Linked DNA regions of Homo sapiens: region 2 is linked to region 1. The links come from fine-mapping of genetic effects on gene expression. A gene starts in region 1. The other region holds a variant in brackets. All regions are shown on one strand. Distances are from middle to middle.

Region 1 (5,378 bases):
GGTGGTGAGATCACCATGAATGAGGTCTTCATCGTGCATTCGAGCCAAAACCTGCCCAATTGTCTTGGCTAAGTTGGAGAGACCCTGGGGAGTTTTTTCAGTCTCCATAGTGGACTGAATATAATCTCGAACAGTCACTGAGCCTTCAATTTCTTCCATATATAAGCAGTTGGAAGCATAGTCCACAAAAAAGACAACTGGGGCAGATATTCCTGAAATCAAGACATAAGTGGTTATTGGGTTGGATTTTTTTTAACGGGTAAACTTAATTTTCAAAGATTAAGCCAGTTTTTCCATCTATATCTACTTATTTCAGGACTATTGAGGAATGCTACAGGAAATGGTACAACTGAACTCATCTGGAATATTCCCCTGCTCATGCCCACTGCAGGACTATGCCTGGGAACACCCCACAGCTAAACTGAGGAGGCCATAGCTTCCTCCTCCCTTCCAAACCACCCTTTCTCACTGGACTTCATTTGTCACACTCACTCTCTAAAAAACAAACAAAACAAAGGCCGGGTGTGGTGGCTCATGCCTGTAATCCCAGCACTTTGGGAGGCGGAGGCAGGCGGATCACTTGAGGTCAGAAGTTCGAGACCCCCATCTCTACTAAAAATACAAAAATTAGCCAGGTGTGGTGGCTCACGCCTGTAGTCCCAGCTACTCGGGAGGCTGAGGCAGGAGAATAGCTTGAACTCAGGGAGCGTAAGTTGCAGTGAGCTGAGATTGTGCCACTGCACCACTCCAGCCTGGGTGACAAAGTGAGACACTGTCTCAAAAAACAAAAACAAAGAGCAAGGCACAGCCCAGTCAGAGCAGTTTCTACTGATGAGGACACAAACAGGAGGCCAAGCAGTGTGCTAGCTTCGAGGTTCATCTTCGTAGTCAGAGAGGACAGGGTTCAAATCCCAGCTGCTTTTCTTATTAGTTGTCTAATCTAATCTTAAAATTACATTAACTTCTCTAAGCCTCAGTTTCTGCTACTATACAAGGAACAATAGCTCCAATAAACTCAATGAATCTTTACTGAAAGTCAACCAGGCTCAGTATACTTTTCTAGAAACTGAGAGATGTTATCAATGGGGATACAGCAATAAACAAGCCAGCTATAATACAATCTCTGCTTAACGAAACAGATCATGAGGCTGAAAACAGAAATATGAATACACAAATAACTTCATGAAATCTTAAGTCTCTGAAAGGGCAGCAATGTGTCCGCTTGTTGGCTACTGAATATCCCCCACCCAGATCTCCCAGCACTTAACAATGTCCTGGTACCCACTGGTACCTAAAAAATACTGATAAAAGAAAGGCAAGAAGCGTAAAAGTAAAAAGCCAGGGCTTCTGAGTCAGAGGCATAAGGAGCTGAGGGCCTGGACCGGCCACTTAGTAACCGTGTAACCTTGGGCAAGTTACTTCTCTCTGAGTGTCACTTTCTCATCTGAGGACAAAGTTTATGGTGCTGGCGCACAATGATGTTTAATGAAAAAATAGGCAATTTAATGAAATCCAACATTTATTGGGCACTATGTGCCAGGCACACATTTGAACATAATACGTGACACACATACCTCCTCTAATGGTCACAACATCCCTATGACATGGATACTGCTACTATGTCTCCCATTTTACAGGTGAGAAAACCGAGGCTGAGAGGCTAAATAACTTGTTGAAAGGCTACACAAGCAGCAGAGTTAGTATTTCAACCCAGGGAGCCTGGCTCCAGTGGGGCAAGTACTTGTCATTACATGTTTCTTAAAACTAATAAATGGAAAGATAATGATCGAAAATTGAAACGAGTCAAATGGGGAAACCAAGGCTCAGGGAAGTTAAACATGTTCAACATTGAGCAATAATGACAGATCCCAGATTTGAACCAGGCAGAACGGCCTCAGGACAAAAGCTTGACGCTGCATGGCCACGTGGTTTCTTAAGACTTAACGAATGAAAAAAGGGATGAAAGAATAACATTTCCGAAAGGCCGGACACCGCAGAAGGCACAGAAGGAGAAACTGAGGGAAATCCAGCTTCGGAGCGCAGGGGAGTCCCTCACCCGCCCAGGCCCCAGAGCCTCGGGGCCGCCCACGCCGGGATCCCGGCCCACCTTACCAGCGCGGCGACAGCGGAGGAGCGCCCGGGCCTCCTGCACCGTCCGCCGTCTGCCAAGCCGCGCCTCCAGCGCCGGGTGCCGGTAGCCCTTGGGGAAGCGGTGCTTGATCACCGCCGCGCGGCCCTGGAAGCGGCCACGGAACACGCGCGCCTCGGCACCCTGCTTCACCAGCTCCAGGCCGCTCAAGAAGCGGCTGCTCCGCTCCCGGGCTGCGGCCAGAGCCTCAGCCTCCGGGGCGGGCTCCTCGCCATCGGCCGGCGTAGTAGCTCTGGCCGCCGCCATGACTGCTCGGCGCAACAGCTCCAACCGATCAGCTGTCTCTGAAAACTGTCGCGATGCTTCGGCTCGCTTCGGAAATCCTGGGACTTCTTCGGCAATCCTGGGACTTCTTCGGCTACCCGAATGCGTCCACCCCGGACACTTCCGGCCTGTAAGTGGTTACGCCTCCCAACTTTTCGGCTCTCTGAAGCCTGAGGTTCCCTGCAGGAAGGGCTCTTGTGGCCCCGCCTTCCGCCTCTTCGGCTATCTCCGTACACGTTCGGCAACGCTCAGTAAGTGGCTCTTCCCGACTCCTTGGCTCTCCGGAAATCTTCGGTGACTCTCGCAGCCGGCTTTGGGGGCCCACCTCTCAGTTGGTCGTCTCTTTCCGGAAAACTTCGGCGCCTCTCGAGAAAAACGTCGGACGCGCTTTGCTCTCTTCAGAAGTCTCTTCCGGGACAGCTGTACCCTCTAGTAGTCTCTTTTTGGAACTCCTCTTCCCCTGACTCCTACATTCCCCCCAAAATGTGCTCATACAAGTCAGAGTCGGAAGGGTCAGACAATGAACCATGTTTCCGACATCCTCTTAAGTGCTAGGATAACTACCATTTAGTGCATTCAGAAGAAATAAGGTTAAATGATGAAAATCCTTACAGAAAAGAAAATTGAGACTCAGAGCTGGCAGAGGGGGTGGTAAGATGGGGTGGGGAGTGGGGGCTGGGGAATCCGGGAAAGTCTTCCGGAGACAGAACCTAAACTGAATTGGGAATAATTAAACTTTTTCAGTTTCTACCTGTTTCATTACAAAGCTTATAATAACACAGGCTGTAGCAAATTCTTACAATACGGAACTTTGCACACGCACACATAAATAAATAAACTACCTATCCCCCTTGTGACACTGCTGGCCGTTAGTTTCTTTCCAGAATTTTCTTTCATTCAGTGTGCACACTCACACATCGTTGTGGCGTTTTTTCCAACATAAATGACATCATACTGTGGGTTCTTTGGCAACTTGCTTTTCATTTTCCTAAACAATTTATCTCAGACTATATTCCATATCAATACATACAGAGCTACCACGTCCTTCTACCTGGTCAGGCAGTTTCTTGTTGCTAAACAGTTGTTTCCAGTTTGTTGTTTCTCAGGAAAACACTTTACTTACTATTGCCAGTTTATTATAAAAGATAGTATAAAAGATAAAAATGAACAGCCAGATGAAGACGTACATAAGGAAAAGTAAAAATTGTACGTGTTTATCGTAAGTAACATGTTTTGAAATATGTATACATTGTGGAATGGCTAAATCCAGCTAGTTAACGTTACCTAACATACTGATCATTTCGGGGGTGAGGACACTTAAAATCTATTATCTTAGCATTTTTCAAGAATACAACCCATTGTTATTATCTATAGTCACCATGTCGTGCAATAGATTTCATGAATGTTTCCTCCTATCTAACTGAAATTTTGTATCCTTTGACCAACTTCTCAAAATCCTCCCTATCTCCCTCCCCCTACCCCACCGCCTGGTAACCACCATTCTACTCTGCTTGCATGAGTTCAACTTTTCTTACCTTCCTCATATAAGTGAGATCATGGGATATTTGTCTTTCTGTGCCTAGCTTATTTCATTTAACACAATATCCTCCTGTTCCATCCATGTTGCTGTAAATGACAGCATTCCATTCTTTTTAAAGGCTGAATAGTATCCCATTGTGTATATAAATGTACCATATTTTTATCCATTCATTTAGTGATGGACACTCAGATTGAGAATTGTGAATGATGCTGCAATTAACATGGGACTGCAGACATCTCTTCAATATACTGATTTTGTTTCCTTTGGATATGTACCCAGTAGTAGGGTTGCTGGATCATAAGGTAGTTCTATTTTTATTTTTTTTGAAGAACCTCCATACTGTTGTCCATAATGTCTGTACTAATTTACATTCCTATCAACAGGGTGCAACGGTTCCCTTTTCTCCACATCCTTGCCAACACTTATTATCTTTCTTATGTTTTAAAATAGCGATTCTAACAGGTCAGAGGTGATATCTCATTGTGGGTTTAATTTGCATTTCGCTGATGATTAGTGATGTTGAGCATTTTTTTTTAATATACCCGTTGTCCATTTTTATGTCTTCTTTTGAGAAAGATTTCTTTGGATCTTTTGCCTACTTTTAATTCAGGTTTTGTCCTTTCTTACTATTGGATTGTATTCCTTATATATTTGGATATTAACCCCTCATCAGATGTATGGTTTGCAAAAATTTTCTCCCATTCTGTAGTTTGTCTTTTCACTCTTTTTTTTTCTTTTTTCTTGACTGTGCAGAAACGTTTTAGTTTGATGCAATTCCATTTGTCTATTTTCACTTTTGCTGCCTGTGTTTTGAGAGTCCTACACAAAAAATCGTTGCTCAGGCCAATGCCATGACATTTTGTCCCTGTTTTCTTATAAGAGTTTTATAGTTTTGGCTCTTACATTTAAGTCTAATCCATTTTGAGTTGATTTTTGCATATGATGTAAGATAAGAGTCTAAATTCTTTCACATGAATATCCAGTTGTCCCAACACCATTTATAGAAAAGACTGTCCTTTCTCCATTACGCGTTCTTGGCATGTTTGATGAAACTCAATTGACTATAGTGCGTGGATTTATTTCTGGGCTCTCTATTCTGTTCCATTGGTCTATGTGCCTGTTTTTATGCCAGTGACATGCTGTTTTGATTACAATAACTTTGTAGTATATTTTGAAGTCAGGCAATATGATGCCTCCAGCTTTGTTCTTTTTGCTCAAGATTGCTTTGACTATATGGAGTCTATTATGATTCTATATAAATTTTAGAATTTTTTATTTCTACAAAAATGTCATTGGAATATTGATAAGAATTACATGGAATCTGTAGGACATTTTAACAATGTTACTTCTCCAGTTTTGTTTCATTTTTTTTTGTTTTGTTGTCTCTTATAAACAGTGCTGCAGTGAGCAGGCTTATCCAGCCAT
Region 2 (5,378 bases), 140 kb before region 1:
AAAAAAGCTTTATTTACAAAACCAAGAAGCCATTGGATTTGTCCTGAAGGCTATAGTTGGATGCCTCCTGATCAAGGCCATTCCAAAGTCCTCCTCCAGTCTGACATAGACAGATGTAAGCTATTAATAATAGCCACTCTTTATTAAATAATCTCTTATGTGCCATGGAGCTTACTAGGTACTTTAAGACAATACCACATTGTAAGACACAATAGCCTTTTAGGATTAGGAGGATCGATTCAATTTGTACAAATGTGGAAAATGAGGCTAGGACAAGCTGCCACTTGTGAAGGGTGACCTTGGATGCAAGTTATTTTAAGGTGTCTGGGTTTCAGCATCCTCAACTGCAATAGGAAGTGAAAATAGAAACCACTTCCTAGAGCTGTTGTGGGTATCCGATGAGTCCCTCTGCCCATGGTATGGGGCCCCATGGATGATTCAAGGGCTGTTTCTTGGAGGCAAGTCAAATTTCATCACAAGTCAAGGGTTTAACAGATTCTCCCCCTGCCCTCAAAACAATGACTCCCTTCCCTTTTCCCATCATCACACTTACATCATACTTGACCGTGAGCGTGATGGGCACAGTTGGCAACTTCTGAGCCCAGTCCACAGTAGCCTGTGCCAGGAGGAAGGCTACATGGTCTGTGGCCACCGCCACAGCCGTGGCCACGAGGAGCAGGGCAAGCAGCCCCAGCCTTAGAAGACAACTCAACAGCTCCTCCTGTGACAGCCTCAGCTGAGCCGCCTGGAGCAGCCAGGTGGGTGGAGGGGCCAGGAGGTGTGTAGCCTGGGCCTGTGCCAACCGCTGGGTCAGCTGTTGAGTGGCGTAGATATTGTCAAACCGCAGGTCTGTCAGGTAGCAATGGAGGTACCATGCCGACTCCACCAGGAGGCCCAACATAAACAGCCCTGTGACCACTCGCTGGGTCCCTAGCGCTGCTGCCCGGGCCAGGGACTCCAGGCCAGAGAAATCCTCCAGGACCTGCTGAGTGACCCTGAGCATGTGAAGGTAGAAGGCAGAGCCATTGTCCTGGGCCTCAAATGTCAGGCCCCGGCTGCCTGCCTGGCCTGTGGGGCCCAGAGCCCTGGATGCTGCATGCAGCTGGTGAGTGGTATTGAGGAGACTCTCCAGGGAGCCCTCGGTGACACACCTCAGCACCTGCCCGGCCGCACCCACGTTGGCCAGGACGTTGGGCACCACAGCAATGGCCAGGGTGGCAGTGCTGTAGGACAGGAGCAGCCGGCGGCCCTGCTCCATACCCAGGGTGGGCACGCTGAGTGCAAACAGGCAGCGGACTGGGGGTACCAGGCCCAGGCTCAGGAAGACCAGGAGGCCACAGACAGTGGCAACCATGGCTGAAGGTCCAGGAGGATAAAGCAGCAAGGATGCCAGCCAGTGATAAACCAGACCTGCAGCAGCAGCAGCCAGGGAGGCACACAGGAGGAGCTGGGTCAGCAGCTGGCCACAGCTGGCTGGAACAGGCTGGGAGAAGGCGTCCCAGGCAGCCTGCAGTGGGGCAAGGGCCTTCCAGAACCCCAAGTGCCAGGACCTCCACCTGCACACAAGGAAATTGAAGGGCATCTCTATCAGGAGGTGGGTGGGTGGGTGTCTGTCCACTGCCCCTGCCCCACATACCCATCACCAGGCTCTGCTAACAGACTCCACCCTTGTAGTTACCCAGGTGGACCAATCAGAGTAAGTCACTGTATACCCACGTGACACAAGCTGAACCAATCAGAGCCTTCCCCAGGATTACTCTCGCTGGAACTGTCAGGGAAGAGCCCAATTCCCATGCAGTACCTGAGGATGTGAGGATGAAAGTCTGCCCTGTTTGAGTCCATTATTACAGTTTTGTGAAGGCAACTGGCCCAAGAGAATGAAAGAGTCATGGAGCGAGAAGCACAGGTGAAAGAGAGAGAATGAGTAAGAGGAGAGAGAAGAAGAGAAACGATTTCACTTGAATTAATAGTCTTGGTGGCTTGCTGTATGATTCTGGACCTTCTATTCTTTCTGAACTTCAGGGTCTCCTCTATAATTTAGGGGTGAGGAGGGTGAACTAGTTGGCCTGTGAGGGACTTTTATATTCTATCATCCTTATATTTATTCATTCAACAAGTGTTTATCAAGCAACGACTTTGTGTTAACCATTGGAGAAACAGGAATGAAAAAAACAGAAGTCCCTACCTTCGTGGGGCTTGCACTATGTTAAGAGCGATGGCAGAGGAGTAGTAAGGAAAGCTTGGATTCTGAACACATTTTGTTGGCAGAGTCAACAAGATTTGCAGAGGCTGATTGGTTGTGGGGTGTGAGAGAAAGAGGGGAGTCAAGGATGACGAGGTGCTTTTGTGTCTGAGCAACTGGAAGCACCAAGGTGTCATTTCCTGAGATGAGAACTCTGTGGTCAAAACAGGTTTGAGTGGAGGGGGAGAGAGGAGGAATTCAGTTCAGAACTCTTAAATTTGAGATTCAGTTGAGCCATTCCGTGGAGCTTTTGACGACGTGGTTGGAAATAGAAGTCAGGAATTCAGAGGGGAGGTCAGGCTGGAGTTATAACATTGGGAGTCTGATTATTAGATGTCTCCCAACTTTATATCCCTACCTAAAGCCATGTGCACCATGAGATTCCTCAAGAGAGTGTGTCACTGGGGAGGAAAGACATCCAAGGACATGCCTCAAGG[C/T]GCTCCAAGGTTAGGGGCTCTTAGATAAGGAGGAACCAGCAAAAGAGACTGAGAAACCAATGTGGTGCTTAGGAAGCCAAATAAACAAAATGTTTCAAGGAGAAAGGAGTGATCAAGTACGTCAAATGCAGCCAACAGGTCAAGAATGATGAGGACTGAGCAATGCCTATTAGCCGCTTAGAGGTCACTGTTGACCTTGGCAGGGAGAGTTCGGTGGCTTTTGGGGCCAAAATCCAACTAGACTGGGTCCAGGAGAGACGGGAAGGAGAAGAATAGGAAACACAGATACAGACAACTCTTTCCGGTAATTTCTACACTAAAACAGCAGGGAGATGAAGCAGTGGCTGGTAGCTATGGGAAATTGGACCAAGAGAATTCATGTAAAGGGAGGAAATCTATAGCATGTTTGCAGGTGGGAGATCTCATCGAGAGGGGAGACATTGACAAAGGGGAGACTCCCTGGAGTGACACCTGTAGGGGTGGAGGCAGAGAGTGAGACTGAGAACATGCAAGGTGGGGCTGGTCTTAGAATAGAGCAGGGGTCGTTCATCCTTAATAGCAGGTGGGAAAGCAGAGGAAATAGGTACAGATGATGGCGAATGAACAGGCAGCGTGTATGCACCTGTGAAAAGTATCCTCTGATATACGCAGAGCAGAGTAATGTTAAGGGCATGACCTCTGGACTGCCTGGGCTCAAATTTCTGCTCCACCACTTGCCAGCTATGTGAACTTGGGTACATATCACAACCTTTCTGTGTCTCAGCTGTCTCATCTGTAAAATGGTGCAATAAAAGTATGCACCTCCTGGGGTCACTTTGTTTCTGGCACATGGTAAGTATCACATCAGCTATTACCTACCACTAGAGTCAACTCCACCGGAGCAGGGACTTTGTCCGTTTTGGTCACTGATATGTCCCAAGTGCCTACAATAGTGTCTGCCATGTTGTGAGTGCTCCAAAACTATTCATTAAGAGTAGCATGACCGATTGCTTCTGTTTGCTCAGGTTGGCAGGAAGCAAGGTCAGCAGAGAAGGTAAGATGCTGGCGGAGGTGATGGATGCTTGAAGAGGAAGAAGAAAGTACAAAATGGTTGCCCAGGAAAGTGGGAGAACAAACGAACTGGGGCAATAACATATGTGCTGGGCAACACTGAGGCCCACTTGAGGTTGGAGATCATACATTATCTTAAGTGAGAGCAGGCAGAAAGGTTATACGGGAATATGGTTATAAAGGGCAGGGAGGGTGGTGGGGAGGCTGTCACTGTGTTGGTTACAGGCAAAGCTGCTGACTTGCTCCACCATCAACAGCTTGAAGGATAAGCATGTGACTGGGTCTAGTTGATCCAAGTACCTCTGATCCCCTGGCCACCGTGACTGGTGCAGGGATTGCACCTGACCGGAGATGGACCAATAGAGCTTTCCTCAGGATTTTGCTGCAACGACAAAAAAACTGCCCTTTGTTGCCTTGAGAGCTAAGCTGGTAGGAAGATGCCTCAAGCCTTGGGGACCACCATGTAGTATGAGTCGGCCTGGGATGAAGGCAACACAAGGAAAACAGTGTTAGGAAACAGACAGAGAGTCCCAGTGGCCTTGTTGGAGGACCTGGATCCAGAAATGCCTGAAGCCGAAATCTATGCCGGACCACACACTAGGAGATGTCTGTTTTTCTACAGGCAGTGTAAGATCAATCTGTCACTTGCAACTCAATGAGTCCTGACTAATACAGAAACCTTTGTCACAGGGCTTCTGGGACAATAAAATGAAATAATCCATGTAAAGAAGTTTACACAGGGTCTGGCACAGAAGAGGGATCCTATAAAACTGCACCACTTGTTACTCTGATGATACTTATGTCAACGATGTAAATGTTTCACTCGAGTCTCCTCTGTGCCCAGGCTCTGTGCTGACCCCTGTGGACACAAAGATGAATTAAGTCCTGGTCCCACTAAAGGAGTTCACAGTCTAATTGAGGAGACTTAAATAGACCATTAGAGTTTAAGTTCATTAACAAAGAATTCTGAGCATAGTATGCCTGGGCCTGGACTGGGGTGGGATAGATGGAGAGTGACCCAGTTTTACCTGGGAGTCAGGAAGGCTCCCTGGAAGAGGTGACATTCCAGCTGGGGGTGGAAGGACAAGTGTCAGTTTGTGGGTGAAGAAGGGAGTTGGACATCCCTGACAGAAGGAACAGCGTGTGCAAAGGTCCTGTGCTCTGACCATCGGGAAATAGGGAGTTGGGAGAACCAGAACAGTGGGAAGCTGAGATGCAGTGAGGCCTGTGGGGCTGGAGTGAAGGTCACAACCTTGAAGCCCTAAAGGCTGAATCATATGCAAATGTGCCTTATTGTGGCCCACTCTGTGTGTGTGTGTGTGTGTGTAAGCTGCCCCCATTTGGAAATAAGGAAGTTTCACATTAAAATCTGGGTTTCCAGCTTTTCTTGAGAGATAAGAAGATCTGGGTTAGAGCTCCCACCTTTGCAACAGGTAGCTGGAGCTGAGTATCCACTACCCACCTTTGACAGGGGAGCAGCCCTGCAGACTGCATCCTGCTGATCAATGAACGGGTCCGTCTGCACACCCAGGTGGCCTTCCACAGGTGCAACCCCTTCCCAGCTCCCGAAGGCATTTGAATTTGGGACTAAACACCCCCTTCTACTATATAATTAATATTTGGAACACAGTAGCTTTTGGAATAATAGC

Which allele goes with the higher level. Positions count from the first base shown, and alleles are read on the strand shown. Sizes are in standard deviations (SD) of each study's normalised expression.
For the expression in adrenal gland of the gene that starts at base 2,425 in region 1, allele C in region 2 goes with a higher level than allele T (small effect, 0.29 SD a copy in GTEx).

The links. PIP is the estimated chance that this variant, and not a neighbour inherited with it, causes the effect.
Region 2: its variant is fine-mapped to the expression of TP53RK in adrenal gland (GTEx, PIP 0.98).

What each region holds. Positions count from the first base shown.
Region 1 is chr20:46,687,020-46,692,397 of GRCh38, forward strand. TP53RK (TP53 regulating kinase) reads right to left here and starts at 2,425. Exons shown (of 2, transcript NM_033550.4): 1 at 2,113-2,425; 2 at 1-212. The coding sequence starts at 2,395. It overlaps TP53RK-DT (TP53RK divergent transcript), which reads left to right and starts at 2,280. Exons shown (of 1, transcript NR_186399.1): 1 at 2,280-3,270. RefSeq lists a silencer at 2,004-2,053 and an enhancer at 2,284-2,873.
Region 2 is chr20:46,544,774-46,550,151 of GRCh38, forward strand. It overlaps OCSTAMP (osteoclast stimulatory transmembrane protein), which reads right to left. Exons shown (of 3, transcript NM_080721.3): 2 at 554-1,556. Among named protein-coding and RNA genes, the nearest start is that of OCSTAMP, 3.2 kb to the right of the region's middle. RefSeq lists enhancers at 187-1,038, 245-314. The variant C/T (reference allele first, on the strand shown) is at 2,680.